Regions from separate parts of the Homo sapiens genome. Here all the other regions are linked to region 1. Evidence: fine-mapped expression QTL. A gene starts in region 1. Each other region holds a variant in brackets. All regions are shown on one strand. Distances are from middle to middle. Region 1 holds the start of FARS2 (phenylalanyl-tRNA synthetase 2, mitochondrial). Region 2 overlaps LYRM4 (LYR motif containing 4). Region 3 overlaps FARS2 (phenylalanyl-tRNA synthetase 2, mitochondrial). Region 4 has its middle 210 kb from the start of NRN1.

The links.
Region 2: its variant is fine-mapped to the expression of FARS2 in whole blood (TOPMed, PIP above 0.99).
Region 3: its variant is fine-mapped to the expression of FARS2 in testis (GTEx, PIP 0.91).
Region 4: its variant is fine-mapped to the expression of FARS2 in testis (GTEx, PIP above 0.99).

What each region holds. Positions count from the first base shown.
Region 1 is chr6:5,257,930-5,266,037 of GRCh38, reverse strand. FARS2 (phenylalanyl-tRNA synthetase 2, mitochondrial) reads right to left here and starts at 4,525. Exons shown (of 7, transcript NM_006567.5): 1 at 4,378-4,525. LYRM4 (LYR motif containing 4) reads left to right here and starts at 5,088. Exons shown (of 3, transcript NM_020408.6): 1 at 5,088-5,390. The coding sequence starts at 5,305. RefSeq lists silencers at 5,008-5,227, 5,288-5,597 and an enhancer at 5,808-5,857.
Region 2 is chr6:5,234,128-5,242,235 of GRCh38, reverse strand. All of the region lies in intron 1 of LYRM4 (LYR motif containing 4), which reads left to right. It overlaps LYRM4-AS1 (LYRM4 antisense RNA 1), which reads right to left. Exons shown (of 4, transcript NR_126015.1): 4 at 1,740-4,528. It overlaps LOC124901249 (a long non-coding RNA gene), which reads left to right. Exons shown (of 2, transcript XR_007059423.1): 2 at 1,513-3,685. Among named protein-coding and RNA genes, the nearest start is that of LYRM4, 23 kb to the left of the region's middle. The variant T/C (reference allele first, on the strand shown) is at 4,057.
Region 3 is chr6:5,403,025-5,411,132 of GRCh38, reverse strand. It overlaps FARS2 (phenylalanyl-tRNA synthetase 2, mitochondrial), which reads right to left. Exons shown (of 7, transcript NM_006567.5): 3 at 6,432-6,591. Among named protein-coding and RNA genes, the nearest start is that of FARS2-AS1, 51 kb to the left of the region's middle. The variant TAG/G (reference allele first, on the strand shown) is at 4,411.
Region 4 is chr6:5,791,396-5,799,503 of GRCh38, reverse strand. No RefSeq gene overlaps it. Among named protein-coding and RNA genes, the nearest start is that of NRN1, 210 kb to the left of the region's middle. The variant C/T (reference allele first, on the strand shown) is at 4,557.

The DNA of each region.
Region 1 (8,108 bases):
CAAGCCCAACACAAACACTACCTCCTCCATGAAGCCCCCTAATTCCTTCAGGTCAATGTTTCTCAGCCCTGGCTCTACCCAATCATGGAGAGAATTTTAAAAAAAAATTAAACAAAATTATCTGAAGCCTGGGCCTTAGCACTGCTGTTGGTCTGAGGTGTGGCCCAAGCATCAGGGATGAAGTGACCTCTCCTTGCACTGAGACCCCACAACGCTTCAGCAGCCCTTTGTACAGGATGGTAGAAAAGTTATTGCTGTTTTCACCCTTAAAAGTAACGGTCAAAACTGCAGCTACTTTCACCAACCTAATACCTTATTTTAATCATATACAAATGCATTTAAAGTATAAACTTCTGGAAAACAGGATCAGTGTTTGATTTATATATCGCCCTCAAGTTACCACAACAACAGTAACTTAAATTGCTAGGCTGCCAGCTATCTCTTGAATGCACAGGTAAATAAATAACATTTCAGTGCCTCTGGAATATAGGATTCAAAGTCATGATTTGAAACAAAAGGTTATCAGTACCTGAATAAATAATCTCCATTTCAACAGCTCAGCTGTTAAGTTCTACTTATATAACTCAGCCAATGCATAAGGGAAGAAATGATTTATTCCAGACAGAGAGAAAACATCACTAAAATAAAGCTAGTACAGGGCTAAACACTTCAGTGGTCCCTCCCTTCCCACCTCCTACCATTCTAAAACACTTAAGAGTTCTCTAAATAGATCAAGCACCCTTCTTCCTCCATGCTTGGATATACACTGCAATCTTTAACCACATTCCTCATCTGGCTTTTACTTCTCATTCTGGAAACACCTTCTACGATGGAAAGCCTTCCCATAGGTGAAACTCCTGGTTCAATATTCCTCTTCCCTATTCCTTTAGCGTTTACTAATATTACTCATATCGCAGCAACTGTCAAAAAGAAATTATTGGCCAAGTGCCACGACTCACAGCTATAATCTGAGCTCTTTGGGAAGCCAAGACAGGAGAGGCACTGAGGAGTTTGAGACCACCCTGGACATCATAGTGAAATCTCATCTCTACAAAAAAAAAAAAAAACACTTAAAAATCTGCCAGGCATGGTGGCATGAGCCTATAGGCCTAGCTACTCAGGAGGCTGAGGCAGGAAAATCACTTCAGCACGGGAGTTTGAAGTTACAACGAGATATGATAGCACTACTGCACTCCAGCTTAGTAAACAGAGACCCTGTCTCTATAAAATAAATTATTGTTTCGCTTATCTAGTCACCTACAAGTTTCTTAGGGGTGGGGAAGCTCTCATCACTGTGACTATATCATCTTATATAATATATGGTACTTATGGGCCGGGCGCGGTGGCTCACGCCTGTAATCCCCACACTTTGGGAGGCCAAGGCAGCTGGATCACCTGAGGTCAGGAGTTCAAGAAAAGCCTGGACAACATGGTGAAACTCCATCTCTACTAAAAATACAAAAAATTAGCCGGACGAGATTGCACCATTGCACTCCAGCCTGAGAAACAAGAGTGAAACTCTGTCTCAAAAAAAAAAAAAAAGAAAAAAGAAAAGAAAAACCATAACCTATAGTACTTAGGAAGTGTTCAATAAATGCTGAAGGAATGAACGAATGAGGAAAAAGTCTTCAGTTTGTTCATCTGTACAAATGAATGAGTTGATATCTAAGGTCTTCCCCCTTCCCCTTCGTGTTCTATTAAAATGAAGGATCAATGTATAATACTTGGATTCATGTGTGGTGTAGAATAGAATAATTTCTTTTTGTTGTTGTTGTTGTTTTTTCTTTTTGGTAGACAGGGTCTCACTCTGTTGCCCAGGCTACAGAGCAGTAATGTGATCATGGCTCAATGCAGCCTCAACCTCCAGGGCTCAAGCAATCCTCCCACCTCAGCCTCCCAAGTAGCTGGGACTACAGGCACATGCCACCACACCCAGTTAATTTTTGTATTTTTTGTGTAGAGGTGAGGTTTCGCTATGATGTATTTTTTGTATAGATGGGGTTTTGCCATGTTGCCCAGGCTGGTCTCAAACTCCTGGGCTCAAGCAATCCACCTGCCTCAACCTCCCAAAGTGCTGGGATTACAGGTGTGAGCCACCATGCCCAGCTGAACAATTTCTAAATAATATCGTAAGTTACTACTACTATACAAATTTTACTTTATACATCATTTTGATATTTAAGCTTAAGGACAGTAAATTGTTGTTACACTGTTTATTATGATTAGAGAAATTTCTCTTCACAAAGCATTAAGTGGTCATTAACAACCCTAATTTTAATAGAAGGTAACACATGATCTTCCATAAAGAACTACAGGTAGTCGATAACTTTTGATAAATGAATACTAAAGAAATTTTTACGTTTTGATGCCTAAATGGTACCTCCTGTTTTACAGATACTCTCTAAGAAAAATTTCAACCCAGAATAGAATGACTATTAAAGGACGTATGTGTAAGGTCCATTCTTCAGCTTCTGGCCCAAATCTACTTACAATCTCAAATCGAGTTATTTTTTTTAAGTCATCTCCGCAATGAAGATGTGCAAAAGTGAGATGTAGCTACGGAATGATTATTTTCTTTTAGCCTCTCCAGGCAATGATGTCCAACACATTGGTAAACCATTTTAAATAAAATAATAAGGTATTTTTATGAAGACTTGGCTCAGAATTAACTGGGAAGCCTATCACTTTCCTAACTGCAACCATTGCTCGTACTAACAGAGGACTAAGCTACCCAAACTATTTAAACTATACATATTTATTTGGAAAAGTTTTATTTGATTACAACAAAGTTGAGTAATTTAGATACATTAATTATGTACGTTAATGATTAAATTCCTTGATAATTAGGTAGAAACAATTGTATATAGTAATTATTCCAACTTTACTCTCAAAAGCAAAATATAATAAAATAATGTAATCTTTGCTATTTTTAAAAAAGCCAAAATAATCTTCAAGTTTTTCCTTTTCACTCTGATAGCATTCTCTATCAGTAACTTGCATTAATGTTGTAGCTTTGAGGTGCCGCATATCATTTCATATCACTGGCACACAATAGTGTATCAAGAGAAATCAGCTCTGAATCTTACTCTATAACAATGTGCAATTGCCTTGGTCTTGGATCCTTTAAGAAATAGCAAAGGGAAAACTCAAAAAAGTCCTTTCAATAAAGCAGAGGCTAGATTTGCTCAATGACCTGACCAACCAGGAAGTAATAGAAGTTTTGCTATCCTGTTTAAAAAATAATAATAAACAATAACAGACATGAGATTTTCAAGAAATCAGGGAGGAGACTTAAAGATATCTTAATAAAAGTATTTTCTCTTCAGTGCCTTTTAAAAAATGTCATTGCATCAGGATTAGTAAGAATATCTGGATGCAAGGACACCAGGTTGCAAGTACACTAAAGAATGGTAAGGTCAGAGAAGTGTTTTTTCTGCCTTTAAAGTTCCTGAAAATAGAGGCTGGGCGTGATGACTCACACCTGTAATCCCAGCATTTTGGGAGGCCGAGGCGGGCGGATTGCCTGAGGTCAGGAGTTCGAGACCAGCCTGACCAACATGGTGAAACCCTGTCTCTACTAAAAATACAAAAATTAGCTGGGCGAGGTAGCGCGCGCCTGTAATCCCAGCCACTCAGGAGGCTGAGGCAGGAGAATGGCTTGAACCTGGGAGGCATAGGTTGCAGTGAGCCCGAGATCCCGCCACTGCACTCCAGCCTGGGCGACAGAGCGAGACTCCATCTCAAAAAAAAGAAAAGGAAACAGAAAAGTTCCTGAAAATATAAAGTTGTTTAGACATACAGCAGGTATATCGTTTCAAAACCAAATACACTAAAGCAGATGAGAACACAACCGTGACCAAGTGGTTCGGAGAAAGATGGATTTTAATGCAAAGTTGTTTTGTTTTCACGCATAACGTACTTCTCGCTGTGCTTGAGTGCAGAAAGGTGTGGTTCTTCCTAAGGTTGATTACATAAAGCAAGATTCCAAAAACAAGAAAAGTGCTTTGCAAACACAGTAACTAGGACTGGCTGAAGCTTCCTGCGTCCAGTGCCATGCTCAAAGATCAGAACAAGCAACTTTATCCACCACTTTAATAAGATGATTCAAAAAAGCTGCAGTCTTCTGAAGAAAGCCATGGTTGAAAACTTGCTCCGCTTCTTGGAGAAAGCCTAAAGCCCTAAAGGTCTCTAATTATTCTCCAAAGTCTACAACCCAAGCTGCATTTTATGCATTTATTAGGTTACAAAACCACGGGAACTCTTCACTCAAAAGCAAAAACACATCCGGAAAGAGGAAAAAATCCACGGCCAATGTAAACCCCCTACAACACCAACCGCCCACGTCGTACCCCAGGCTGCAATGAGGCCGGCACTCACCCACCGCTCGCCCGGGAAGCCCAGACCCAGGTGTTTCAAAATCAGAAGTACGGCAGGCTCGTTCGCTCTCACGGGCAAGAATCTTAAACCCCAACTTCAGAGATACCCGCGCACGCTGGGCGCTGCCATTTTGACAGAAAGCGGGCCTGCCCCAGAGGCCCCTACGCAGGTCGCCCTGAGCAGAGCCGGAGTGCCACAGAACCCCTAGCTCATCACCTCCACACCCAGACGTCGCATCCCCCGGCCTGAGGAATGCCAAGAAACCCCACCCTGCCGACCAGGATCAGGCGAAATCAAGTCACCCTTGAAATCCCGCAAACTCTCTCAGGCAGCGCCGAGGGCGACCGCAGCCGGCGTGGGAGGGGCATCGGCGGTCAGGGGCGGGGCGTCGGTGCGGCGGCCTTCGGTAACCCGGGCAACGCGGCCTCCTGGATGTAGGAAGGGGCGCTGCCCCCGAAACACAAATGTCTCCGCCAAGACCCCAGACGGTTCCCAAAGGCTCTCCGTGATGCAACTGCACGTCCCTCGAATGCCTGGGCCTCCGATATCCGTCCGCCAGGAGCTTGGCTGGATGCACGGGCGGCCAGTCCTCTTATTTCCCCGCCCTCCCGCCGCGTGGAGCGGCTGCTGGGTCCCGAGCCTCCGGGCGGGGGCGGGATCGGGGCGGGGCGGAGGCATCTCCCTCCCAGCACCGCCCCCTTAGCTGCCCCGAGCCCTGCCTGCGCCCGCCCCCGAAGCGGCGCGGGACGCCTGGCGCCGTCCGCGATCCGCAGGGCTGCCCGCTTAGGCTTAGGCCCGGCCCGCTGGCAAAGCCGAGCCGCAGCATTTTATTTCGTTCGTGGTTTCCGCACAGGCTGGAGTTTCGTGGGTTGGGTCGTACTTGGGACCTCGGCGAAGAGGACCCGTTTATTTTTTTTTCTTTCCAAAATGGCAGCCTCCAGTCGCGCACAAGTGTTATCTCTGTACCGGGCGATGCTGAGAGAGAGCAAGCGTTTCAGCGCCTACAATTACAGGTGACCCAGCGGGCACCGGGGGCCGGGGGCGGGGGGCCAGGGGCCGGGGACCGGGGGTGCGGGCTGACGCGGAATATCCCCGGGGACTGGGAGCCACCGTGGTTTGCCGGCGGCTGCGAGGCAAGGACCGGGCTCCGCCATCGAAAAGCGTGCTCCTGCCTACAGGTGTGGCCTCTGAGACCTCGGGGAGGAGCCTTTCTTTCTACCAGGGGAGACGTTCATGTCTTGTGACGTTTTCCCCCTAAAGGCTATCTTGGTAGTTATTCTAGGAGCATGATTAGTGTTATGTTTCTGCAGAAGAGAAAAAAGGGATGGAAATCAGTCATTTGTGAAGTTAAGGCCAGTGTGTTGCATATGTAAAACTTCCCTTGAGCACTGGAAGAGTTGAGAGTGGAAGTGGCCAGTGAGTAGTACACTGCGACAAAGCTGAAGGCACACTCTAGCACCTCCCTAAAATTTCCTAGGTGTCGTAATGAGTTCTTTTGGTTGCAAGAATCCATTCTATTTAGGGTATGGTGGAAATGCGTAGCGGAAAAGGAAAAAGGGTCTCACAAGCTTTGGAGCTGAAACCTCAGTTTCTCCTGGCTCACCAGACAGAGATCCCGCTTACTGGACCTTGACAGCAGGATATTGAGGGCCTAAACTCACATCTTTAATATAACACATTCACTTTTTCTCACGCCTCCCCACTCCCCTATTTGCCTATGAGTCTTTTATTGTTACTCTTTGTATGTTTTTTCTAATTCAGAGCCTCTGCTTTCACAGTGTTGCTGGTTCTGACCCATCATTTTCTTATGGATTCTCTCTCTGCATTTTTTTTTAGATTTGTTTTTTGTTTTGTTTTGTTTTTACTAACTACCTGTCTCTCTCTGAGTTTGAGCCATATTCCCATGAGAAAGAATCTGGTTGGATCAACTCATCTCTTTACCTCAAGCCTCACTTAGGTGACTGGCCAGACTGTGGATTGGATGTCATAAGAGCAGAGCCTACCCTTGGAACACACCTGGTTAGGTAGGCCCCCCTCCAGCACGTGTGTGAGCTGGCAGGCCCTGAGATGGGTCTGCCCAGTACAACCTCTGTCAGAGGACAGGAACGCTAAGCCTCTTAAGCAATGACTCTCAAATTTTTAGAAACCCGCCTGGAAAATATACTCATGCTGCAAATTTGAAAACAGCATCTGGGTCATACCACTGAGGTTGTATCCACCCAGTTAAGTGGTTAAATTTCACGGGAGAGAATGATTTTACTTAATGACTTTGACTTTGGAGAATAAAGAGTGTAATAATAAGCATACTGGTGGAATTTTAGCAAGAATTAACCAAACACCTAGCACCAAGTACTTAACCAAGTCTGTTGAGGAAACACATGAAATATGCAAGTTAAATAAATAGAAACCATTTGATTTCACCATAGTCTGGAGTAAAATAGTTTGTCATTAAAGCTTACTCAGGATACACAAGGACTTGGAATCAGCAGGCAGTTCACACACTAAGGAAAGTGGCAGGGAGAGGGTTTATGTGAGAGCATGTAAGAAAGTCAAGGTGGAGCCCTCGAAGACTAACTTGGACAAGTCTCTCAATCTCTGTATTTCAGTTTTCTTGTTTATGAAATAGACTGTTGGACTAGACAATCTCTAAGGACCCTTCCATTTCTGAAATTCTCTTTGGAAATGATTTATGAGCAAATGAGGCCCAAGCGTTTTCAAATGAGTAATTGCCAACTGAACAGGAAAATCATTCACGAAACTCAACAGGAAAATCATTCAAACTTTAGGAAAATCATTCAAGACTCTACCTGAAAGGCAGAAAATTGAAAATGGGTTTCAGTATGGGCAACTGTAAGATCATATGCATTCAGAAAATAATTGATCAAATTATACCTTAAGCATATACTTTTAAGCTAAATTTACTATCCAAATATAAATATATTATCCAAAGGAATCTGATAATCATTTTATACTGTTACCTGAGATCATAGACCTAAAAACCGACATTCCTGCTATTACCTCCCTAGATAAACTTACTTGTTATAAAAATACGTCCTTTTACATTAAGGCTGTGTCTTGTGAATTTCAGGAAAAGTCCCTTCCCTCCTCTCTAATCTCTGCAGCTGTTTGTCACTGATGGCAAATCAATAGCAACACAACATCCACTATCAATTCTGTGTGCCACTGCTATCTTATGTTCTTCATGTCTATTAACACATTTGTTTTGACAATAATCTTGTGAGGTAGGTACTATTTGTATTACCCTGTAAGGCAACTGAGGCACAGGGAGCTTAAGTTACCTATCAAAACTAACACAGGTAGTGCTGAATAAGCAATCAAAAGCAGACTAGTAAACGTTTTTTAATGACCTGCGAATTGTGCCTTAAGTAATTAGAGTAGTGAAATAAATACTTTGGAACTCTCTTGCAAGACCTATAATATAGGCCACGTTTTGATAGCAGGAGCCCTGTCTGCTCCTCCAGTCTCAGCCTAAGTCCCACATGTGCATCCTGTCCTCTGTCATCATCAGTTGCAGTTTCCTAAATGTGCCACGTCCTGTTGGGCCTCCAGGCCTTTACAAGTACTGTTCTATCCAGCAGGCCCTTTATCACTCCTGTCTAGAGTGCCCCCTCTTCCTTCAAGATTGAGCTCAATTGTCACCTTCTCTGAACAAAAGTTTTCCCAACTCTCTTCATCCCACAGCTTCCACTCCCATCCCTCCCACCAGCCAA
Region 2 (8,108 bases), 24 kb after region 1:
CCAGGCGTGGTGGCACGTGCCTGTAGTCCTAGTTACTCAGGAGGCTGAGGCAGGAGAATCGCTTGAACCAGAGAGGCAGAGGTTGCAGTGAGCCGAGATCACACCACTGCACTCCAGCCTGGGTGGCAGAGTGAGACTCTATCTCAAAAAAAAAAAAAAAAGTGTAAGCAAGCCAGGAAATTATAACTGAGACAATGTGTGTGTGAAGGCCTTGTAATCTGTAAAGCACTTACAGATTAAGGTAGTAGTAATATGGCCGGGAGTGTTTGGGAGTTTCTTATTTAGGTTGGAGGATCTTAGGGCCTTGCTAAAGAAGATGAAGGCCTCTATTAGAATCTCCAATATTTCTGAGTCAGGCCAATGGCACGATGTATCACCATTTTACTTCCAGTTATCTCCACGGCCTGTTTTCCTGTCTCTAATCCTTGTGGACAGGAACTTTTTGATATTGATATATAACATATGCCTGCGAACCATATTCATTCAATTAACAAATGTTTACTGAGCTTCCACCGTGTAACAGGCACTGTTCTAGGCACTGGAGATTCATCAGCGAAATAGAACTTATCAAGTTTCAGCCTTCATGGAGTTTATGTTCTACTAAGATTTATGTTACAGCAGAAACTTCCAATACTTTTGATCACTGAATACACTGGAGGCAGTGGTCTCATAAATGCCTATGCTGTACAAAATTCTATACTGAGGCCAAGTTACAGTCTGATTCCAGGGATCAAAAGCATTGGAAGAATTGGTTTCATTCAAATTCTGATGAAAACCATTGTAATGCTAATAAAGTCTGTACTTGCCTACGAGACTGTTTACTGCCTTAGGGATCTCTCCTCCATACTTACACAAATCCCTTATTATTTGGTAGACTGAGAAGAAAAGGTAGCTTCAGAGTGAATTAACATTGATTGAATACATGCTGTCTGTCACGCACTGTATGTTATAGACTTTAATATGCATTGTTTTATTTAGTATAGAGTCACTATGAAATGAGGATTCTTACTTCATTTTACAAATACAATCATAACAGCTCTTTTTTTTTATTAACCATCTCCCATGGGCCGGACACATACTAGGCCCTTCCTTGCATTGTCTTATTTAACTGTCATAAAAACTCTATTAAGCAGGCACTTTTAATTTCCCCCATTTTGCAAACAAGAAAGCTGCAGTTCATAGAATAGAAGTAACCTAAAATAACAAAGTTGGTATGGAGCCAGCTTAACACCGGATTCTCCAAAGCCAACGTTTTTCCCCGTATTCCACGTTGGTTCAGGCAGGTACATTCCCTGCTTCCACCTCCTTTTGCATTTTTGGATGTGCTTCTTTATGTAAGTGATAATAAGACTGACGCGTTCCAGTGTCCCTCCAAGTGGGCCCCCGCCATTGAGGCGCTGCTGGTGTTTCAGTGAAGCTTTTTCTGTTCTTGCCTCCCCTTGACTTAAATTACAGGTCAGCATGTGGACTCTTTAGTTGTTACTCCCTAAATAATTATTTTCATTTTCTTAGCAGTCCTTTCTTTCCCTGGCCATGCTCACAAAGCTGGGACCTACATTGGATACTACTGCTGCGGGTTTACAATCCTCAGTTGACCTGTCTGCGGGGAGACGGAAGCCCCTGAGTACTTTGCCCAGGATGTCTTGTCTTTGGAACTCCACTCCTCCCCAGCTTGGCAAAACCCTTGGTGTGCTCTTCTTTTAAAACAGGGTAAAACAGATACTTAACAACTGTCATTTCACAGTTGGTATTTTAATAGATATTTCTCCCAGCTGCTATTGTTTTAGATTTCTTAAGTAAATATTTTTGTATTGTGTTTGAGTATCCTAAGGTAATATTATCACAAAGGGTACAGTTTTATACATTGAAAATAAATTAACTTGGGTACATGCCATATTCCAAAGTGTCAGCAGAGGAGGGGGAGTAGTGTTAATGTAAATACTTCTGCAGAGTAGTAATAATGGATGGCAGAAAAAATGAAGAGAAAGGAAAGATAGGAGGTGAGATTTTACCAGAGTGAGTCAGGGAACAAGCAGACGTAGAGAAGGCCTGGAAAGGTTGGATGTACTGTAAGGAGAGTTTTCAGCAATAGGATACAGCTGAGGCTAGGTTTGGCAGAGCTAGGTGGAGTACTGAAAGGTGATGTCTTCGAAGCCTGTGGTGTTTTGAGTCTTATTTTGCCCTGTTTACCTTAATGGAAGGAAAGATCCTAGACCACAGGCCCTGGGTTCCACCTGATTGGCTGCGGCAGGCAGCATGAGCATCCCTGCCGGGGGCATCAGCTTCCCTTCTCTCTCTGTCCTCTCATGCACTTGTTCTGCGCCATGGCCAGGTACTGTTCCCTATGGGGGTGGTGAGAATGTTTTTAAGGGCCTATGCTCAGGGACCCTCATAGAGCAGAAACCCAGATTCTGCAGGTCTGGAAGAGCCTTGGGAAAAGACCAATGTGGCCTGTGCCGATTAGGAAGTCAGTGATACCCTGACAGCCTGCAGCTGGTGGGAATGGTCTGTGCACTCTCCCGGCTGTCAGCTGCCCTCACTCCTCACTCTGCTGCAGTCTGGCCTGCCACCTTCCTTCTTGTCACTTTCCTTCATTGTATCTTTGGCCCAATTAACCAGTCTCCAGCTTCTTTCTTCCTTCCCTAGCGTGCGGGACACCACCTTCTCCTTGTCTGCTCCTCTCTTGGCTCCGCTTGACATTGGAGGCCCCTTGCACTCCATCTTGACCTTCCCACACCCTCCCTAGATGCCCACAACTCATGGCTCCAACCTTGTGTGCTCTAGTGATTCCCCTCCATTTGTCCTTTCCAGGGGCCTCCTGGGCATTTTCTGGTTATGCTACCAACACCTCGTATCTAAACTAAAACTCCACATCATCCCTAACCCATCCCCAACCTAATCCTTCAGGCAAACTCAACACTCCAGCATTGCCTCTCATCATCCCAGTATTTCCTTGTGCAAGCTGGAAGTCACTTCACTTTCTCCCCTTACTTTACCGTAGTCAGTAGGTCCTTATGCCCAGCAGGTTCTCTCACTTATTTCCCTTGCCGGACCTTCTTTATGTCTCACGAGTTGATTGCTTTTTGTTGGTTCATCAGTTTCTGTCTGCATTTTGTACAGCCCCCTCCGGGTCTATCTACCTCCTGTTCTTTGCTCTGCCAGGCATCCTGCCTATTGCCACCGGAAAGAATATCTTTCTAAATTCCAAATCTGATTCTGCTGCTTGCTTAACACATGCGTGTAAAAGTAGCATAATGGGTTATCAGAAGCAGAATTCTTCCTTTAGAGGCTAACATTTTGTCAAGAAAATTTGACTAGGTAGATTTCAAATGCATAAATGCTGAATGAGAGCCCAGTTAATAGTCTCGGACTATGAATAACTGTGTCCAAGACCTTATTATGTTTATATGAAATAGGTTGGATTTGCTTATAAAATTCAGGTATCCTAGTAGATTCATTTTCTGCTGCTGGAAATAGTAAGGACTGACCCTGGGTCAAAATTTGCATTTGTTTCCTATCATGTAGAAACTTCAGCAAAATAAACAGGATCATAAAATTAACATTTTATTGTTCTTCACAGATCTGTATTCACTTCACCACTCTCACTGAATTAAATCACCCTGTTACTTGTTTATGTAAGGAAAAAAGAACAAGTCAACTGACTGAATAAACTATGGGTTATTTACAAGGCCCCTGGACTTACTCCTATTTAAATGCTTATGATTTGTTAGTTGACTTAATATATCCAGTGCCTATACAAATTCAGATAATCAATGATGTCTCTTTAAACACAAATCCTCTAATAAGAATTTCTTTTTTAACATGAGTATAGAATTACGCTGGGAGTGACTTCTCTTAACACTGTCATTTTGCTGCAGCATGGTTAAATTAAATTTACTTGGACTGCCCTGTGAACCTTACCATCATTTAACATTGTTGTTCCAAATTCTCAGTAAGAAATTTTAGAACCCTATCATGTCTCTCAGTATATAGTTTATACTCCCATAGTTTATTTGAAAACAAGTTGCATTTAATTTTATTCTGAATTTCGATATA[T/C]TTTTAACCACAGATCAGAATTGTTTGTGGGTGTGTTAAGTAAGAAAAATCAGGAAAATAAGAATAGGAAAACCAAAATAAGTCCTGGGATGAGGTTTCCAAGCAAAAGGGTGGTTAGAAGGCAGGACAGTAAGCAGCCAGGAGCACGGCCTCAGGTCTGGTTCTGAGCTTCCCAGCAGCCTATGCAGGGAGAGGACCATGATTAGTAATGTGAGTCAGAGTGTCTGTGATACCGAAGCAGCCACTTTCTTAGAAGAATTGTAACTCTTTCTGGTGCTAAAGCGGAAGACATTCTCTTATGCTCTTTCAATGAAGGGCAGCATCCTCAGCATAAGTACAACAGTTTCAAAGGGCCTGTGCTTCTGGCATCCTGTCACGTTGGCTGGTAGCACAAGGCCACAGTAGGAAAGCATTTTGCAGGTAACCAAAATTGCAGGTCCTTGGCACATCCAACAGACACAGCTTAGCATATCTAGAAGAGTAGATACAGGGCTTGTCTTTTAGGCAATCCTTCATAAGTAGTGCTCAGTTCACCCCAACTTTTCATACATTTTAAACCAGTGGTCCCCAACCTTTTTGGCACCAGGGACTGGTTTCATGGAAGACAATTATTCCACGGACTGGGGTTGTGGGGGATGGTTTCAGGATAATTCAAGCACATTACATTTATTGTGTACTTATTTCTGTTTATTACATTGTACTATATAATGAAATAATTATGAAACTCACCATAATATAGAATCAGTGGGAGCGCTGAGCTTGTTTTCCTGCAACTAGATGGGTCCCTCTGGGGATGATGGGAGACAGGGACAGATCTTCAGGCGTTAGATTCTCATAGGGAGTGCACAACCTAGATCCTTCGCATGCGCAGTTCACAATAGGGTTTGTGCTCCTATGAGAATCTAATGCCACCACTGATCTGACAGGAGGTGGAGCTCAGGTGGTATTGTGAGCGATGGGGAGTGGCTATAAATACAGATGAAGCTTCGCTCATCTGCTGCTGTGCAGCCCAGTTCCTGATAGGCCACAGACAAGGGTTTGGGGACCCCTGTTTTAAACACCAGTGGATGTGAAGTTACACTCCCATACAAGCTCTAGACTGAGTAGAAAGCCAATTCTTTACCTTGAGGGATTTCCCACGGACAGAGTCAAAGACCCCTAAGAACTTTGAACCCACTGCAATTCAAAGCCCTTCTGTTCTGTTCCTTAGAGATTGTCTTTTTAAGAGACAGGGTCTCACTGTCACTCTGGCTGGAATGCAGTGGCATAATCACAGCCCACTGCAACCTCGACCTCCTGGGCTCAAGTGATCCACCCACCTCAGGCTCCCAAATAGCTGGGGCTACAGGCATGCAGCACCACACCCAGCTAATTTTTAATTTTTTTTTTTTTTTTTTAGAGACAGGGTCTCACTGTGTTGCTCAGGCTGGTCTTGAACTCCTGGGCTCAAGCAATCCTCCCGCCTTGGCCTCCCAAAATGCTGGGATTACAGATGTGAGCTACTGCGCTTGGCCCCCTTAGAGATTTTTTTAGAGGGATTATTATAACAGACCATCTCTTTTAAACAAAATAATATTCAGATGAGATCTTCAAATAATTTATAAACTGTAAGTCTGTAGGGTTAGTTTGAGTTAGGAGCCACTTAACATGTACCAAAAATGAAAACTTTGGTTTCAGAAAATTTTATCTAACACTTTTTTTTTTTCCTTTTTTTTTAGATGGAGTCTCACTCTGTCGCCCAGGCTGGAGTGCAGTGGTGCTGTTTCAGCTCACCACAACCTCTGCCTCCTGGGTTCAAGCAATTCTCCTGCCTCAGCCTCCCGAGTAGCTGGGATTACAGGCGCCCGTCACCATGCCCGGCTAATTTTTATATTTTTAATAGAGACGGGGTTTCACCATGTTGGCCAGGCTGGTCTCAAACTCCTGATCTCAGGTAATCCACCCGCCTCGGCCTCCCAAGGTGCTGGGATTACAGGCATGAGCCACCACACACAGCCTAATGCTCATTTTTAATAATGTAATATTTTGAGCTTACAGCCATTGTCTATTAACATCACTCCACTTGTTTATTAAAACCTCAATATCCACCTACGGGAAAATGGCTTTCCCTCTGCGCTCAGGAAGAGATATATTTGACTGTACTTTGTTCTTGTAGAGTGGTCATAGTTTTGTTGACATAGAGTTCCCTCTCAGATAGTGTCAAAAAAGTGGCATTAAGCATAATGTTAACATTTCTTTCTTATTCTAGGCCAGTATATTATATATACAGTATTAGGAATCTCAAAACCAGTGAGAATATTTTATATTTTCACACTTTTTCCAGTGGCAGTCAGTAAACACATTTTCTTCTGATGAAACCACTTTGTAACCAAGTAAAGCTCAAACACAGGGGTAAAAGAACAGACCTTGAGCTATGTTCTTAAGACTAACACAACCAGATTATTTTTCTGTTTAAAGAATTTGAAAGTAACTTACATCCACATACTTAATCTTGTGCAGGAGTAGAATTGTAATGATGTGTTTAAATACCTTATGCCTGATACAGCAAATGTTGAATGTAATATGCTGATAATTGGAGGTATATGTAAATTATTTCCAGAACTACCAAATATTAGCAATTTGCTATAATGGCTATTAAATGAATAATGAAGAAAAGATAAGCATGTGATTAGTCACCAAAACATAAAACTATTGTCCAAAATTTCTTGTGAAGTTAAAAAAAATGAATACTGTATTAGTCTATTGATATATATCATTCTTGTGACTAAATGTAACTGAATTTTTACTCCTTCTAGAATAGAAATCGGCTTGTGGGTCTTTGTGATTGTATTTGGTTTGTTTGTTTGTTTTAATTAAATAAAAAATTACAGTGTGCCAGGCGCAGTGGCTCATGCCTGTAATCCCAGCTATTCAGGAGGCTGAGGCAGGAGAATTGCGTGAACCCAGGAGCCGGAGGTTGCCATGAGCCAAAATCATGCTACTGCACTCCAGCCTGGGCAACAGAACGAGAGTCCGTCTCAAAAAAAATTACAATTCAACAGTGGTTTTAACACCACTATGTGCAAAGCATAGCAGGTCCTATAGGGGAAGTAATGATGGAAAGGGGCCAAGCACTGTCTTAAAGAGATGAGGAACCTGGTGGGAGGAGAGACCTGCAGTGAGTCCCCGGGTACAAGGCAGTAGAATGGGTAAGCAGTGTGCCAGGTACAAAGCTCTGGAGTGCAGCTGGCAGTGAACCTGAGCTCTGGGGGTTTGGGAGTAGGGGGACAGGAGTTTGGCATTCTCATTGGTAGAAACCGAATTTTGCTTGCTAGCTATAATTCTGAAACTACAACTTTACTGGTAATTTCCTTCTTCCTCAATCTAGTAATGTTACCAGAGAATTCCATCCCATGTTCAGTTCCACATACTTCCTTTTAAAGTCACCTTTCTTTTTTTCTTATAGCTCCTCTCTCCTTTTTCCAAAACTTTGTATTCCTTCTTCGATATTTTTATCTTTCCTTTTCTGTGTTTTCCTACTCATGTAGAACCTTGGGTTTTGAATTCTATATTTATTATTAGCCTGCCGTTGCAGAAAGGCTTTCCCTCTGGTGAAATTCTATTCATCCTTCAAAGACATCACCTTCCCTGGAAAGACTTCTCAAAGCCCCTGGCTGAGTTACTCCCTCTTTCTCTGTTCTCAGAGCACTGTGTATACTCCTGTTATAAAATAGAGTAATTTGTAATATGTGCCCAATACCAGGAGCTTTGTAAAGCTTGTCCTGTTTTGATTTGAATCCTTATAGCCTAAGGGCACCTGGCGCCTCTGTGGAGGAGCGCAGGAGTGAAGGGAGCTGCCCCGTGAAGGCCACTTGCCATTGGGTGATAAGAACACGAGGGGCTCATCTCACAGAAGTTCCTTGTTTTGTCCACATCTTAGGGATGCTAAACACAAACAGAATAAATAATTTAAATAATAGTGAAATTTTCCCCAAAACTAATGCTTCAAATGTAAAGCAGTTCTAAATTTAGTCTTCCTAAACAAGAATGAGAGTTTTTTATTTTATTATTTT
Region 3 (8,108 bases), 150 kb before region 1:
CCTGATTTTTGTTGTTGTTGTTGTTTGGCCAGGGGGACATCATGGCTTTTATAGGCCTCACAGTCTCTGAAATATTACTAATAAGATTTCTTTGTATCCTATCCAAAAGCTAACTTCTGGTATGGCCTTAGAAGTCAGCCTGTGGGCTCGAACTGCCTCAAATACTTACCAGCCCTGTGATTTTTACATGGCACTTTTTCTCTGTGTCTAGGTTCCTGCATCTGAAAAACGGAGATTGTAACACCCATATCATAGAGATGGTTTAAAAATTTTTAAAGTGATACACACTTAAAATTTTTGATGTGATTCCATTTAAGAAGAATGTAGCACTAACAATTAATTATAAACCTAATTTTTACTCTCAATACAACATCTGAAAAACAGAGATTGTAACACCCATATCATAGATGCACGTCAAAAGAAAAAACTCCTTGTCAACGTGCTTAGCACAGGGTTTCACACTGTTAACTATTATCTCTATCGTCACCATTATTACCATTATTATTGCTATTATTAATGTAAATTTAATCCAGGTTGATGGCACCTAGATAGGTTTACCAAGACATTTTTCAGAAGCTAGCAAAATTACTTAATTAATAAACCAACCAACAGCAAGAACCCAAAACCCATAACTAATTAGTGCTTCTGAAATGCCTGAAATAGAACAACGCGGCCAGGTGCAGTGGCTCACGCCTGTAATCCCAGCACTTTGGGTGTCCAAAGTGGGTGAATCACCTGAGGTCAGGAGTTCGAGACCAGTGTGGACAACATGGTGAAACCCCGTCTCTACTAAAAATACAAAATACAAAAAAGTAGCCAGGTGTGGTGGCGCACGCCTGTAATCCCAGCTACGTGGGAGGCTGAGGCATGAGAATCGCGGGAACCCAGGAGGCAGAGTTTGCAGTGAACTGAGATCACACCACTGCACTTTAGCTTGGATGACAGAGTGAGACTCCATCTCAAAAAAAAAAAAAACAAAAAAACACAAAAACGAACAAAGCACTTTTCTTCAGAGTTCAGAAGAAACAGCTGAGAATCCTGAAAGCATTGTTAACATTCAGTGTGAGCATGAAGGAAGCACACAGCACTGTCTGTGTTCTGTGATACAGACCCTCTCACTCTTCTAGTTCATCAGATGGGCCCAGGTTCCAGTCACCTTCCCACTTCACTTCACATCTCCCCTGAGAGGCAATACAGCGGACGTCACAAACACGGCAAACACGGTCGGGGACAAGCTCACACACCTCTACAACAACAGCTCGTGGCAACACAACCGGCAGAAACACACCAGGGCATGGCAAGGGTGTGTGAATGAGGCACCTTTCAGCAGTTTCAGGATGCCTGGCCACTGTGTGGATGGGGTTAAAAATGACCATGGCTCAAAGGAAAGAAGAAAAAGAAAAGGCTTTCTTCCCAGATAGATTCTGATGCGTGTGAACCAACATGTATTATCCAAGCAGGTGGATTTTTAAACTTTAATTCCATTCCATAATTCTGCCAGCTCAGTCTTACAGACAAAAAGTGAATTTGAACATTTATAAAATAGCAACATCGATCTGTAATAAAAGCTGACTACCAAAAGTCTAGGCTGACAATATTTTTAAAACAATAAAGCAACATATGCCGAAATGAAAGAAGCTACAAGTTCACTGCTATTCTAAAATTTAAGTTTCTTTTTTTTTTTGAGTCAGTCTCGCTCTGTTGCCCAGGCTGGAGTACGGTGGTGCAATCTTGGCTCACTGCAACCTCCGCCTCTCAGGTTCAAGCGATTCTCCTGCCTCAGCCTCCTGAGTAGCCGGGACTACAGGCGTGTGCCACCACGCCCAGCTAATTTTTTTGTATTTTTAGTAGAGATGGGGGTTTCACCATGTTAGACAGGAGGTCTTGATCTCCTGACCTCATGATCTACCCAACTCGGCCTCCCCAAGTGCTGGTATTACAGGTGTGAGCCACCGCGCCTGGCCCAAATTTAAGATTCTTAATTCTTGGCCAGGATCATGCCCACCATGTCAGGACAGGCATCACAGTCAGAAAAGTCATATATTGCATAAATTGTTTTTTGTAAGGAAACCTGACATCTGCATTTGAAAGCTACGCAAATACAAATATAAAAAATAACACAAAGGAAAGTCTAGGACCATATTTTCAGAGAGATATATATCCTGAAACACCTTGGACAGCTTATATAATCTATACAGAGGCCAGCACATGGCTTACTTTTTAAAATATCTCCTGGTGCAGATATGAAAGCCACCATCAGCACCAATAAGGCTACGGTGCCACAGTCTGGTACACAGCTCCTTCTTGTTCCCTCAGACATGATAAAGGCGAATCAGCCATGACCGTTGCTCTTTGATCGTATTACTCTTTCGTCATGTGCTCCCTGCTTTTATTGTCTTGTCTTAACTTTCCTTTCCTTCCTTCCTTCTTCCGTTTGTTCATATTTACATATTTATCTGATATTTTTTACTTACAAGGCATCTTTCACGTTATCTTGTTTTATTCTTGAGTGAAGCAAGTATCATCACAACTTTTAAAAGTTAGAAAACTGAGACCTGAAATGCTACGTGACCTGTTCAGGACTTCAGAGTAAGGGGATGAACAGGAGCTTCATTTTAAGTTTTCTGATTCTACACTACCGTTTCTCCATGGTCATAAGAGTCTACTGTCAATCATTTTTCTTCCCCTTGCCTCTTCTTTCCTTCTTTCCGTGGACTGTGCTGCATCATGCTTGCTCTCCACAAGTACTTGTGTCACCTGCTTTGTCATTTTTCACCCCATTCTTCTGCCCCCCCACCTTGCTTATCCTTTCCCAAGGCTAATTCCCACTTACCAGGTGTCAGCGTGCATGTGCCTCAGCAGGAGCCTTCCAGGAGCACAGGCTGGGCTCAGGAGGAGGCGCCTTGCCTGTGTGCTCGGAGAACATCCTATGTTTCCCAAGGAGAGAGCTCAAGATCCAAGGCTCCATGGCTCTTTGAAGACAGGGAGTATGGCTAGCTTATTCAATATTGTGATGCCTGCAACAGGGTGCAAATCCAGCTTCTAAACCTCACCAAACAGCAAATCATTTGATTATAGAAATATGTAGGATGACATAAATAAGGAGGATGCTAAAAAAAATTCTCTCCATAGTTTGGCAATGGAAAAATTCAGATGAGCCTGAATCTTTCTGTTAAGACACAATGCTACCTCCTTAAAATACTAGAATCCCTTCTACCTCACCCTGCCTCTAAAATGGCCTGAACAGCTCAATCCATCTCCCTGCATTTGTGTTAAACAGATGATATAAATGTTTAAAATATCACAATTCCTTTCTTTTATCATGAAAGCAAAGAGATGCTGGCTATCATAGGTTTTTCACATCAGCAATTTCTATTTGAAACCTATTTCACTATTATATTACGCCATTTTAATGAAATATATCAAACCTAGAGACAGGAAGAGAAAATAGCAACCACCCATATACTCATTATTCAGTTTTATCAAACCATAACATTTTGTCATATTTAACTTTAGTTTAAAAAAAAAAACATTATAAATCCATTTGAAACATGGTTTCCACCCCTCCCTAATACCATTTCCCACTTCCTAGAAAAACATTATCCTGAAGTTGATGTGCACTTTTTGAAAATGTATTTATATTAAAAATACAGAAGATTAGCTAGTGGTTTCTTATATATTACATGAACTATGCGTTTGGCAATATGGCAGTCAAGATATTCTAAAAAACCTTGCTAAAACAGAGCAGGAGAGGCTTAATAAATTACAACAAGATTCTCTTTAAATACATATTTGAGTTCAGGCATAAGTAGGGGAAATCTGGAGTATGAAAAAATAGAGGTGAATCAAGAACAGTGAGTACTGAAGTCCCAGCTGGAAGAACGGTGACCATGAATCCTGCGTAAGGCCAGAACTTTGTGCTATACTCTATTTCTCTACACCTTTGTCAACGATTTAAAATGTTAGATTTAAAAAATTATTTCCCATTTGAAAAAGCTCTTTGTGGTTTTGTTTTTCCCTGATTACTAATAAAGACAAGCATCTTTTCATATATTTATTGGTCATTATATATATATATATATATATATAATTTGCCACCTTCATGTTCACCCATTTTTCTCTTAAGTTGCAATTTCTGTTTGTTTATATGGAGAAGTCCTTTATAAATGCCAAATGTGTATTTGACATACCACTGGACTCCTGTTAGAATGGCTACAATTAAAATGACTAACCCTATCAAGTGTTGCTGAAGATGTACAGCAACTGGCATTTTCAGACTACTGTTGGGAATCGAGATGGTGCAACCCTTCAGATAATAGCTTAGCAGTTTTTTTTTTTAAGTTAAACATATACCTATGTTTATGAGGAGTGAAAACGTACGACCCAGAAAGACTGATCCATGAATGTTCA[TAG/G]ACGCTTTACTGATAATAGCAAAAAACTGGAAACTACCCAGATACCTATCAATGAATGTATGGATAAACAAATCGTGGAATGGGATACTGATTAACAAAAGGAATCAACTACTCATATACACTATGATATGGATGAATTTCAAAATAATTATTTTAAGTAAAACAAGCCAGACAAAAAAGAGCACATATTCTAAGATTCCATTTATATAAACCTAAAAAATGCAAACTGATTAATGGCACCAGAAAGCAGATCACATGTTGCCCGGGGTGAGATGTGGTAAGGGCAGAAGGGAAGGATTGCCAGTGAGCAGGAGGAAACTCCTGGGGACAATGAAGATGTTCATGTATTGATTCTGCTGGTAGCTTCATGGCATGAACTTGCAAGACGTCAAAACTTGTAAGACTGTGCGAGTATGTTCGTGTGCAGTTCATTGTATGTCAACTGATCAAAATGTACACTTTAGATATGTGTAGCTTACTTTATGTTAATTACACCTCAACAACACTGACTTTTACAAAAGCTCACAAGAATAAGAGAGTAAAGGAGAATCCTAACCACAGTAGGTCATCTGTCTTCTCAGATAAGAAATGTAAGTATTTCTTAAAGATAGTCACAATTAGGAAAATCCACTAACCTTCTCTTTATATCGTGATTTAAAAAAACAAAATATATCTCAATTAAGTTAAAAATAGCTGGAGGGGGAAGGTGGCATTACTGAAAACAAATATTTTTTGAAAAATAAAGGCAAGTGACTAAGTGAGGTCTAGATTGCAACACTATTGTTCCTCCTGCACGAAATATACTGTTAATGTTTTTGCTGTTGATATAATATACTGTTAATATACTCCTGTTGATAGTGGTAATCAGTATGGCAATACGTAAAGTTTTCCACTGGTTCATTCACATGGTTAAGAACCTTGCTCCACTGGGCCGGGCGCCGTGGATCACGCCTGTAATCCCAGCACTTTGGGAGGCCGAGGCGGGTGAATCACAAGGTCAGGAGATCGAGACCATCTTGGCAAACACGGTGAAACCCTGTCTCTACTAAAAATACAAAAAATTAACCAGGCGTGGTGGTGGGCGCCTGTCATCCCAGCTACTCAGGAGGCTGAGGCAGGAGAATGGCGTGAACCCAGGAGGCAGAGCTTGCAGTGAGCTGAGATCACCCCACTGCACTGCACCCCAGCCTGGGAGACAGAGCGAGACTCCGTCTCAAAAAAAAAAAAAAAAAAAAAAAAAGAACCTTGCTCCACTGATCACGTCCTCATGTAATGATAACATAATAATATACTCCAAATCAGCCTGTATATTTTCACTCCATTGATGAGACTGACCTAATCCATTATCATTCTTAGCAAACGTTATAATCATTTTTCTTTCTCTAGCTAAAAGTTTCTGAGTGCCAATCTGCAGCCACAAGTGAAACATTTCGTACCTGAACTCATTAAGATTTTCAGTCAAATCGCAGTCAAAACTTTGTTTCACGCACGAAATTATTTAAAATATTATATCAAATTACCTTCAGACTATGTGCGTAAAGTGTATATGAAATACAAATGAATTTCGTGTTTAGACTTGGCTCCCATCCCCAAGACATCTCATTATGTATATGCAAGAATTTCAGGCCTGGCGCGGTGGCTCATGCCTGTAATCCCAACACTTTGGGAGGCCGAGGTGGGCGGATCACGAGGCCAGGGGTTTGAGAATAGCTTGGCCAACATGGTAAAACCCTGTCTCTACTAAAAATATAAAAATTAGCCAAGTGTGGTGATGGGCGCCTATAATCCCAGCTACTCAGAGGCTGAGGCAGGAGAATTCCTTGAACCCGGGAGGTGGAGGTTGCAGTGAGCCGAGATCGCACCACTATACTCCAGCCTGGGTGACAGAGCAAGACTCCGTCTCGGGGAAAAAAAAAAAGAATTTCAAAATATGAAAAAAAAAAAAAAAACCCAAATCCAAAACACTTCTGTCCCAAGTATTTCAGATAAGAGATCGTCAACCTGTGTTTGAGCACTTACCATCTCCAAAAAGATGTGCCATGAGCCTGGTAAGCGTTTGCTTAAGATCAAACTCTACAAGCTTCACGGCCTCCATGGTGTGTGTCTCTTGTTTATGCGCAGAGCGAGAACTTTGTTCAAAGAGCTGCAGGCTTTCTCCATCCTTTATACCAGCAAATAACTGTAAACCAACAGGAAAGTATAAATAAAGAAAATATCCTGGCCCATCTATATCAGATAACTTTAAAATTCTGCTAAGAATCTTTTGACTCTAAAAAGTTATAATGTGGGAATAAGACTCATTATGTCCTGTCAATAAACGTAATGAAATTAACATTCACTTAGTACAACTCTGAAGAAAACACTACGCTACATGGTATGGGGGGTTTTTAGAGAATTAAGACACTCTTCTGATCTTTGCTAATCTGTTTTTGATTTGCATGAACTTATAGTCAGTTCCCAACAAGAGACATTATCCTCAATTCTAGTGGAAATACTAGTGAATCGCTTTCATATTCTAAAATTACATCCCTGACCATCCCACAGTGTCGAGGAATTAAATCCTGTAAGGTCCATGAAGGTAGGAAGCAAGCTGGAATTTGCTAGTCCTGTATCTCCAAGGCTCAAGGCAGAGCCTCAAACATGTTTCTGCCGCTTACTATCTGTGTAAACTTAGGCAAGTGATACAGTAGCTAAGCCTCAGGGAATCATCTATAAAGTGGGAATAATAATAGTAAATTAGTAGATTTTATTACAAACAAAATAATATATAAAAAATACAGAGTATCTGGCACATTCCAATGGCTAAATAAGTTTTCCTCATTATTGTCTTCATGATTATTAACCACAGCTATCATTAGTCATAAGCTGCTTTACCACTGAAATAAAGTAACTTTCTGGTCAGTGACACAGCAGGTCTTTACTTGGTAGAAGATTGGCTCAAAAGGGATAACTGAGCAAATGAATGTATCATTCTTCCCACCCAAAGTCCCATAATCAAACATAAAAAATGTTTTAATAAAAGAATGAGTCAGCTGCCATTTCTAGTAATGTTGGTTTTGATAATTAGAACCAAACTTCCTGATAAATGCTACTGAAAAAAATACAGAAATTCTTAACAGCATTGAAGAAGTAAAACCGAGATAGAGAGGAGTGACTGAACTCTACAGGAAGCATGAAGCCAGGGGTAAAAAATTAAAAAATAAAAATAAAAAATAAAGTAAGCACAAAGCCAGAGAGAAGCATTGAGAGTATCTGCCTATCTAACCTATCAACTGAAAACCTGAACATGGGTTGTAACAGCTTACCATGGAAGTGAGACAAAAGGGAAAGCTTTGCTGTGGAACCAAGCTGGGGTGTTTGAGTCCCTAAAAGACTCATCCCCCTGATGAGGATGAGCACAAAAGTAAACCAGTCCTTGTGTAGACTTGCAGTCAGGTATCACATTTTCTGAACAATAGAGAGAGCTTCAGGCTACGAAGATGATCTAAGGCAATCCCAGACATACTTCCTCTAACTGGCCAGCAAAATGAGACAAAACCGTTTTCAGAGAAATATTCTAATATCCTAGGCCTCAAATTATTCTTATGAGGACTAAAGACAATGACGGCTGTCAATGCTTCCTCTAAAAATAATTTAGAGCAACAAGAACAAATAAAACTATTGAACACAATGCCTTTGGCAGGCAGGCAGGCAGGC
Region 4 (8,108 bases), 530 kb before region 1:
GAGTCTCACCCATATCAGATTCAGATGAGTCTGTGGACTTTAGACTTTTAAGTTGATACTGAAATGAGTTAAGAGATTTGGAGCCATTGGGATGGAATGAACGTATTTTGCATGTGAGAAGGACATGAATTTGGGTTGCCAGGGTTGGAGTGGTGGAATGCTATGGTTTGAATGTGTCCCTTCCAAAATTCAGGTGTTGCCAATGTGATAATATTAAGAAGTGGGGCCTTTAAGAAGTGATTAGGATATGAGGGTTCCTTCTTCCTGCTTGGAATTAGGCACCCTTACATTAGGCTTGGTAGAGGAAGTTCATCCCTTTTGCCCTTCAGCCTTCTGCTATGTGAGGACACAATATCCTCACCTCTGGAGTATACAGCAATAAGGCACCAACTTGGAAGCAGTGACTGGATGGTCATTGGACAACTGAATCCACTGGCAACTTGATCTTGAACTTCCTAGCCTCCAGAACTGTGGGAAAATTAATTTCTGTTCTTTATAAATTACCCAGTCTCGGGTATTTCGTTTATTTTTAAAATTTTTTAAACTTTAAATTTTTGTGGGTACATAGTAAGTATATATATTTCTGGGGTACATGAGATGTTTTAATACAGGTATGCAATGCATAATATTCACATCATGAAGAATGGGGTCTCCATTCCCTCAAGCATTTATCCTTCATGTTACAAACATTCCAATTATACTCTTTTAGTTATTTTTAAATGCACCATTAAATTATTGGTCTCAGGTATTTTGTTGTAGCAGCACAAGTGGACTAAGACAATGCATCTGTAAGAAGAGACATGTGAGAGATAATCTCTCTTGGCCATGTGAGGACATAGTGAGAAGTTGGCTGGCTGCAACCTGGAAGCAGGCCCTCACCAGAGCCCAATCATGCTGTCACCCTGATGATCACAGACTTCCAGCCTCTAGAATAGTAAGAAATAAATTTCTGTTGCTCATCAGCCACCTGGTGTATGGTGGTTAGTTTCAGTAGCTTGAACTGATTAAGACAGCATTTATACTTAATTATATAATTACATATATTTAAGCATCACTACAATAGAAATATTCTCATTCAGTTAACACCCAGGAGGGGCAAGAGAATTTTCTTTCTTTATAAGAAGCCAGTCCTTAGTAAGTCTCTACCTGCCTTCATGTGATAAGGACTCTGAGTCTGAGGCAGGAGAATGACTGGGCCCTGCTTCCTCTGCGGTGGGGGACTAAAACCTGTTCGGTATGTGTCTTAGTCTGTTTCGTGCTGCCATGACAGAATACCAGAGACTGGGTAATTTATAAAGAAAAGAAATTTATTTCTCACAGTTCTGCAGGCTGGGAAGTCTAATATCAAGGTGCTGGCATCTAGGGAGAGCCTTCTTGCTATGTCATCCCATGGTTGAAGGCATCACATGGTGGGAGAAAGGGAGAGAGAGGGAGAGAAGGGAAAAGAGCCAGACTTATCCTCTTATCAGGAACCCATTTTTGAGATAACTAACCCACCCCCCCTGAAAATGGCATTAATCCATCCACGAAGGCAGAGCCCTCATGACCTAATCACCTATTAAAGGTCCCACCTTTCAATATCATTGCACTGGGGATTAAGTTTCCAACACATGAACTTTGGGGAACACATTCAAGCCATAGCTATGTACTTAATTATTCCATACAGGATTTAAAAGCTCTGGCTGGCATTGGCCTGTCAGACTCTACATCACAGGTCTGAGAGCTCAGTGGTGGTCATAGCTTCCCCAAACCATCTTTATAGTCATGATCAAATTTGTATATCCCACCCAGAACTGTCCCCTGAGCTCCAGATTTACATTTTGAGGCATGTACTCAACATCTATTCTTGGACATCTCAAACTTATTACACCCAACAAGAGCCTAAGTCCTCCCCTTTTCATTTACAAGGATACCCTCTGATATGGTTTGGCTGTGTCCCCACCCAAATCCCAACTTGAATTGTATCTCTCAGAATTCCCATGTGTTGTGGGAGGGACCCAGGGGGAAGTAACTGAATCATGGGGGTCGGTCTTTCCCATGCTATTCTCGTGATAGTGAATAAGTCTCACAAGATCTGATGGGTTTATCAGGGGTTTCTGCTTTCACTTCTTCCTCATTTTCTCTTGCCACTGCCATGTAAGGAGTAAATTTTGCCTTCCACCATGATTCTGAGGCCTCTCCAACCATGTAAAACTGTAAGTCAAATTAAACCTCTTTTTCTTCCCAGTCTCGGGTACGTCTTTATCAGTGCGAAAACGGACTAATACAGTAAACTGGTACCAGCAGAGTGTGGTGCTGCTGAAAAGATAATCCTAAAATGTGGAAGCGACTTTGGATCTGAGTAATAGGCAAATGGTTGGAACAGTTTGGAGGGCTCAGAAGAAGATAGGAAAATGTGGGAAAGTTTGGAACTCCTAGAGACTTGTTGAATGGCTTTGGCAAAAAAGCTGATAGTGATATGGACAATAAGGTCCAGGCTGAGGTGGTCTCAGATGGAGATGAGGAACTTGTTGGGAACTGGAGCAAATGTGACCCTTGTTATCTTTTAGCAAAGAGACTGGCAGCATTTTGCCCCTGCCCTAGAGATTTGTGGAACTTTGAACTTGAGAGAGATGATTTAGGGTATCTGGCAGAAGAAACTTCTAAGCAGCAAAGCATTCAAAAGGTGACTTGGGTGCTGTTAAAGGCATTCTGTTTTAAAAGGGAAACAGAGCATAAAAGTTCAGAAAACTTGCAGCCTGATGATGCAATAGAAAAGAAAAACCCATTTTCTTAGGAGAAATTCAAGCTGGCTGCAGAAATTTGCATAAGTAGCAAGAAGCCTAATGTTAATCCCCAAGACCATGGGGAAAATGTCTCCAGGGCATGTCAGAGACCTTCAGGACAGCCTCTCCCATCACAGGCCTGGAGGCCCAGGAGGAAAAAGTGGTTTCATGGGCTGGCCCCAGGGTCCCTGTGCTGTGTGCAACCTAGGGACTTGGTGCCCTGTGTCCCAGCCTCTCCAGCTGTGGATTAAAGGGCCCAACGTAGAGCTCAACTTGTGGCTTCAGAGGATGGAAGCCCCAAACCTTGGCAACTTCCATGTGGTGTTGAGCCTGTGGATGCACAGAAGTCAAGAATTGAGGTTTGGGAACCTCTGTCTCGATTTCAGAAGATGTATGGAAACGCCTGGATGCCCAGGCAAAAGTTTGCTGCAGGGGCAGGGCCCTCATGGAGAACTTTGCTAGGGCAGTGCAGAAGGGAAATGTGGGGTTGAAACCCCCACACAGAGTCCCTACTGGGGCATGGCTAGTGGAGCTGTGAGAAGAGGGACACCATCCTCCAGACCCCAGAATGGTAGATCCACCAACAGCTTGCACCATTTGCCTGGAAAAGCTGCAGACACTCAACGCCAGCCTGTGAAAGCAGCCAGGAGGGAGGCTATACCTTGCAAAGCCACAGGGGCGGAGCTGCCCAATACCATGGGAACCCATTTATTGCATCAGAGTGACCTGGATGTGAGACCTGAAGTCAAAGGAGATCATTTTGGAGCTTTAAAATTTGACTGTCCTGCTGGATTTTGAACTTGCATAGGGCGTGTAACTTTGTTTTGGCCAATTTCTCCCATTTGGAATGGCTGTATTTACCAATTAATTGTACCCACATTGTATCTAGGAAGTAACTAGCTTGCTTTTGATTTTACAGGCTCATAGGTGGAAAAGACTTGACTTGTCTCAGATGAGACTTTGGACTGTGGACTTTTGGGTTAATGCTGAAATGAATTAAAACTTTGGGTGACTGATGGGAAGGCATGACTGGTTTTGAAATGTGAGGACATGAGATTTGGAGAGGCCAGGGGTAGAATGATATGGTTTAGCTGTGTCCCCACCCAAATCCTCAACTTGAATTGTATCTTCCAGAATTCCCACATGTTGTGGGAGGGTCCCAGGGGGAGGTAATTGAATCATGGGGCCTGGTCTTTCCCATGCTATTCTCCTGATGGTGAATAAGTCTCACAAGATCTGATGGGTTTATCATGGGTTTCTGCTTTTGCTTCTTCATCATTTTCTCTTGCTGCTGCCATGTAAGAAGTGCCTTTCGCCTCCTCCCATGATTCTGAGGCCTCCCTGGCCATGTGGAACTGTAAGTCCAATTAAACCTCTTTTTCTTCCCAGTCTTGGGTATGTCTTTATCAGCAGCATGAAAACGAACTAACACCCCCTCCTTGGTGAAACCTGAGTCAGGCCCTACTCAGCTCTCTTCTAGATTAGGCCTCATCCTCAGCCTGCCAAGCCCAGATTGGTGAGACTCTCCCCACTCTTGATGCCTAACCAAGTTCCTTTTGGTAATTTTCTGCCCAGTGACCCCTCACCCTGTCTGCTGGCCATAAATCCATGGCTGCCCCTGTTGCATTTGGACTTGAGTTCAGTCTCCTTTCCTATTGCGATAGTCTGGAATAAAGTCTTCCTGGCCTGTTAAACTCTGTCTAGTGTAATTTTTCTTTAACATCACCTCCACTCCCACCCCTAAAACTCATGCACCTCCAGCTTTTTCTGCCAGACACCAAGATCCATGGG[C/T]CCTAAAACACAGTTGCCATACTTGATGCCACCCCTCCCTTATTCTTTGCATCCAATCAACCCATCTCAACTCCGTCCTCTTCTCCCTCCCTAGTCCCAGTCACCCTGACCTCCAACCCCCATGACTACAGCCTCCTCCAGCTGGTCTCCCATGTCCACTTTTACCCCCTTGAATCCATTCACACAAAGCAGCAAGACTAAACTGCTTAGATGACAAATCAGACAATGGCTCACTCTTTCTCAAACCTTCCAAGGGCTTCCCATTTCTCTGAGATTGAAATCCAGACTCCTCATCTGGCTGCAAGGCCCTTCTCCCCAGCTTCATTGCATTGCCTCTCCCTGGTCCCTCTGCTCCAGGGGCCACACTGATGGGTCTTCTGTTTCATAATCACCCATCTCTGCCTCATCTCGGGTCTTTGTTCTGGGTCTGCCCTTGGCCAGGATGATGTCTTCCACTCAAGTGGCCCCTTCTCATCCACTGGGTCTCAGCTTCAATGTCAACCTCCGGAGACACTCTCCTGACCAATACCCCTAAAATGCAACCACTGCCACTCTGGTTCAGGCCTATGCTCATTTTCTTCACAGCCCCCACTACAATTGCACATAGTTATTTGCCTGCTTATCTGTCTTCATGTTTCCCTCCCACTGGCATATAAGCAACATGAGGGCAGGGCTGTGACATCCTTGTTGACAGTGACACTACCTTCACTTGCCTAGGACTGCACCCAATATGTGATAAACTCTCAGTCAAAACACACTGAATGACCTAAGTTAACCTTGAGTCGACATTGACCTTTCCTGTAAGCTCTTCGGTCACAGAACAGTCCTCTGCAGACCAGGGGGTGGCTTTCCTGATGGATCCCACAGTATTGCCTACTCCAGGCAAGCTCCTGCCCTCTACCTTGGCACAGCCAAATGTAGGCTGGCTTGTGGCAGGGAAACACATATTGTCTACATTAGCCTCAAAGTAGCATTACGTGTTTTCTGTTTGTTTGTTTGTTTGTTTGACAGAGTTCACTCTGTCGCCCAGGCTGGAGTCCAATGGCGCAATGCTGGCTCACTGCAATGTCCCTCTCCTGAGTTCAAGCAATTCTCCTGCCTCAGCCTCCCGAGTAGCTGGGACAACAGGCACATGCCACCACACCTGGCTAATTTTTTTGTACTTTTAGTAGAGACAGGGTTTCATTGTGTTAGCCAGGATGATCTCTATCTCCTGACCTTGTGATCCGCCCGTCTTGGCCTCCCAAAGTGCTGGGATTACAGGCGTGAGCCACCGTACCCAGCCAGTAGCATTCAATGTTCTTACATTTTATGTCACAAAGTGGCAGGGGTCCCATGACATGACATTGGACATTGTGTGGGCCAGGGGCAGATAAGCTTGCACCACAGCCCATGGCAACCATGAGTTCTGAGAAGCTGAAATGCACATGTGGGAAATTTGATACTTCTTCAATACAACAACAGAATTTCTCTATTTCCATCAAAGAAGGTCACTAGGAATGGAATTAAGCATAGAAAAGGAGGTTAGGGTTTTATTTGTTTATTTGTTTTTTTCATTTCAGCTCGTAATTAAGCTGTTAGGCAATGGCATTTTACTGAAAGTGGCTGCTGAACGTCCCTCTGGTGCCTGGGGTTTCCTGCTCAGGTTTCCCTTGCAGACCCCACAGGAGGCGGGAGAAGGCTGCTCAGGAAATTCTCATGGCATCAAAGCACAGCCTCACCCTCTTTAGGCCAAGCAGTTTCAAAGTGTGGACATATCAGACTTATTAAAATGGATAAGGGCTGAGTGAAATCCTGGAATAGACGAAGGGGGACACAAGCTGTGGTAGACACCCAGTGACTTGTGTAGGAAACGGGAGGTGAGGTACGGGAGCATAAAGGCACTCTCTTCTGACAGCTTCCATGTCCCAGGTAAGTTGGGAATGGGACCCAGCTCCCCTCGAGTGAGAGCAGGAGGAAGGAGCATTGGAGGCTCCAGGACAGAGGAGTATGAGCTGGTATCCAGGAAAAGGAGGAGCCAGCTGATTAATAAACTGCAGTGGGATTGGCTGGCAATAATTAGGGGCCACTGAGGTCCAGTCAGCAACGCAGAGTGACACCCATTGGCACTGGTTGGGCTTTGTCTCCAGGCTGTTTGGGTTCACACGTGTGGGTGGGTGCAGAGATGCAGACACCAGGGGAGGGATTTTTCCAGGCAAGCATGAGAGCGACAAGCAGGGCAAATGAGTTGTAAGTATTTGCCAGGGACTGATTAAAATGATGGAATGTGGCTTTACATTTCAGGTTTTATGTTTAAGTCTTTAATCCATTTTGAGAAAACATAGGGAAAAAGCTCTTTGGTATTAGCCTTGATGATGATTTTTTAGACATGATCCCAAAAGCACAGGCAACAAAAGCAAACACAGGTGGGATTGCATCAAACTAAAAAGCTTCTGCACAGCAAAGGAAACAACAGAGTGGAGAGACAGCCTGCCGAATGGAATAAGATATGTGTAAACCATGTATCCTATATGGGGTTAATGTCCAAAATATATAGGAAACTCAAACAACTCAACAGCAAGAAAGCAAATAACTTGATCAAAAATGGGCAAACAACCTAAATGGACATTTGTCAAATGAAACATACAAATGACCAACAGGTTTATGAAAAAATGCTCAACATCACTAATCATCGGGGAACTACAAATTAAAATGAGGTATCACCTAACACCTTGAGAAAGGCTTTTATCAAAAAGACCAAAGGCAGGTGTCGGTGAGGATGTGGAGAAAGAGGAACCCTTGTACTGTTGGTGGGAATGTAAGTTAGACCAGCCATTATGGAAAACAATTTAGAGGTTCCTCAAAAAATTAAAAATAGAACTACCACGTGATCCAGCAATCCCACTACTGGGGATATATCCAAAGGAATGAAATCAGTATCTAGAAGAAATATCTGCACGTCCACATTTGTTGCATTATTATACAGAGTAGCCAAGACATGCCATCAAACTCTAAGTGTCCATTGATGGATGAATGAAGAAAATGTGGTATATGCACACATGTGATATATATACTCCACATCCTCACTAACACAACAGAATACTACTCAGCCTTAAAAAATACATTTCCAACAACATGAATGAACCTGGAGGACATTATGCTAAGTGAAATAAGCTAGACTCAGAAAGACAAATACTGCATGATCTCACTTATAGGTGGAGTGTAAAAAAGTTGAACTTTATAGAGGCAGAGAGTAGGATAGTGGTTACCAGTGCCCGGGGGTGAGAAGAATGGGGAAATGCTGGTCAAAGGGTGTGAAGTTTCAGTTAGACATGAGGAGTGAGCTCTAGAGACCTATCGTACATCATGGTGGGTATAGTTAGTAACAATGTATTGTGTTCTTAAAACTTGCTAAGAGAGGCCGGGCACGGTGGCTCACACCTGTAATCCCAGCACTTTGGGAGGCCGAGGCAGGCGGATCACGAGGTCAGGAGATCGAGACCATCCTGGCTAATATGGTGAAATGCTGTCTCTCCTAAAAATACAAAAAATTAGCCAGACATGGTGGTAGGC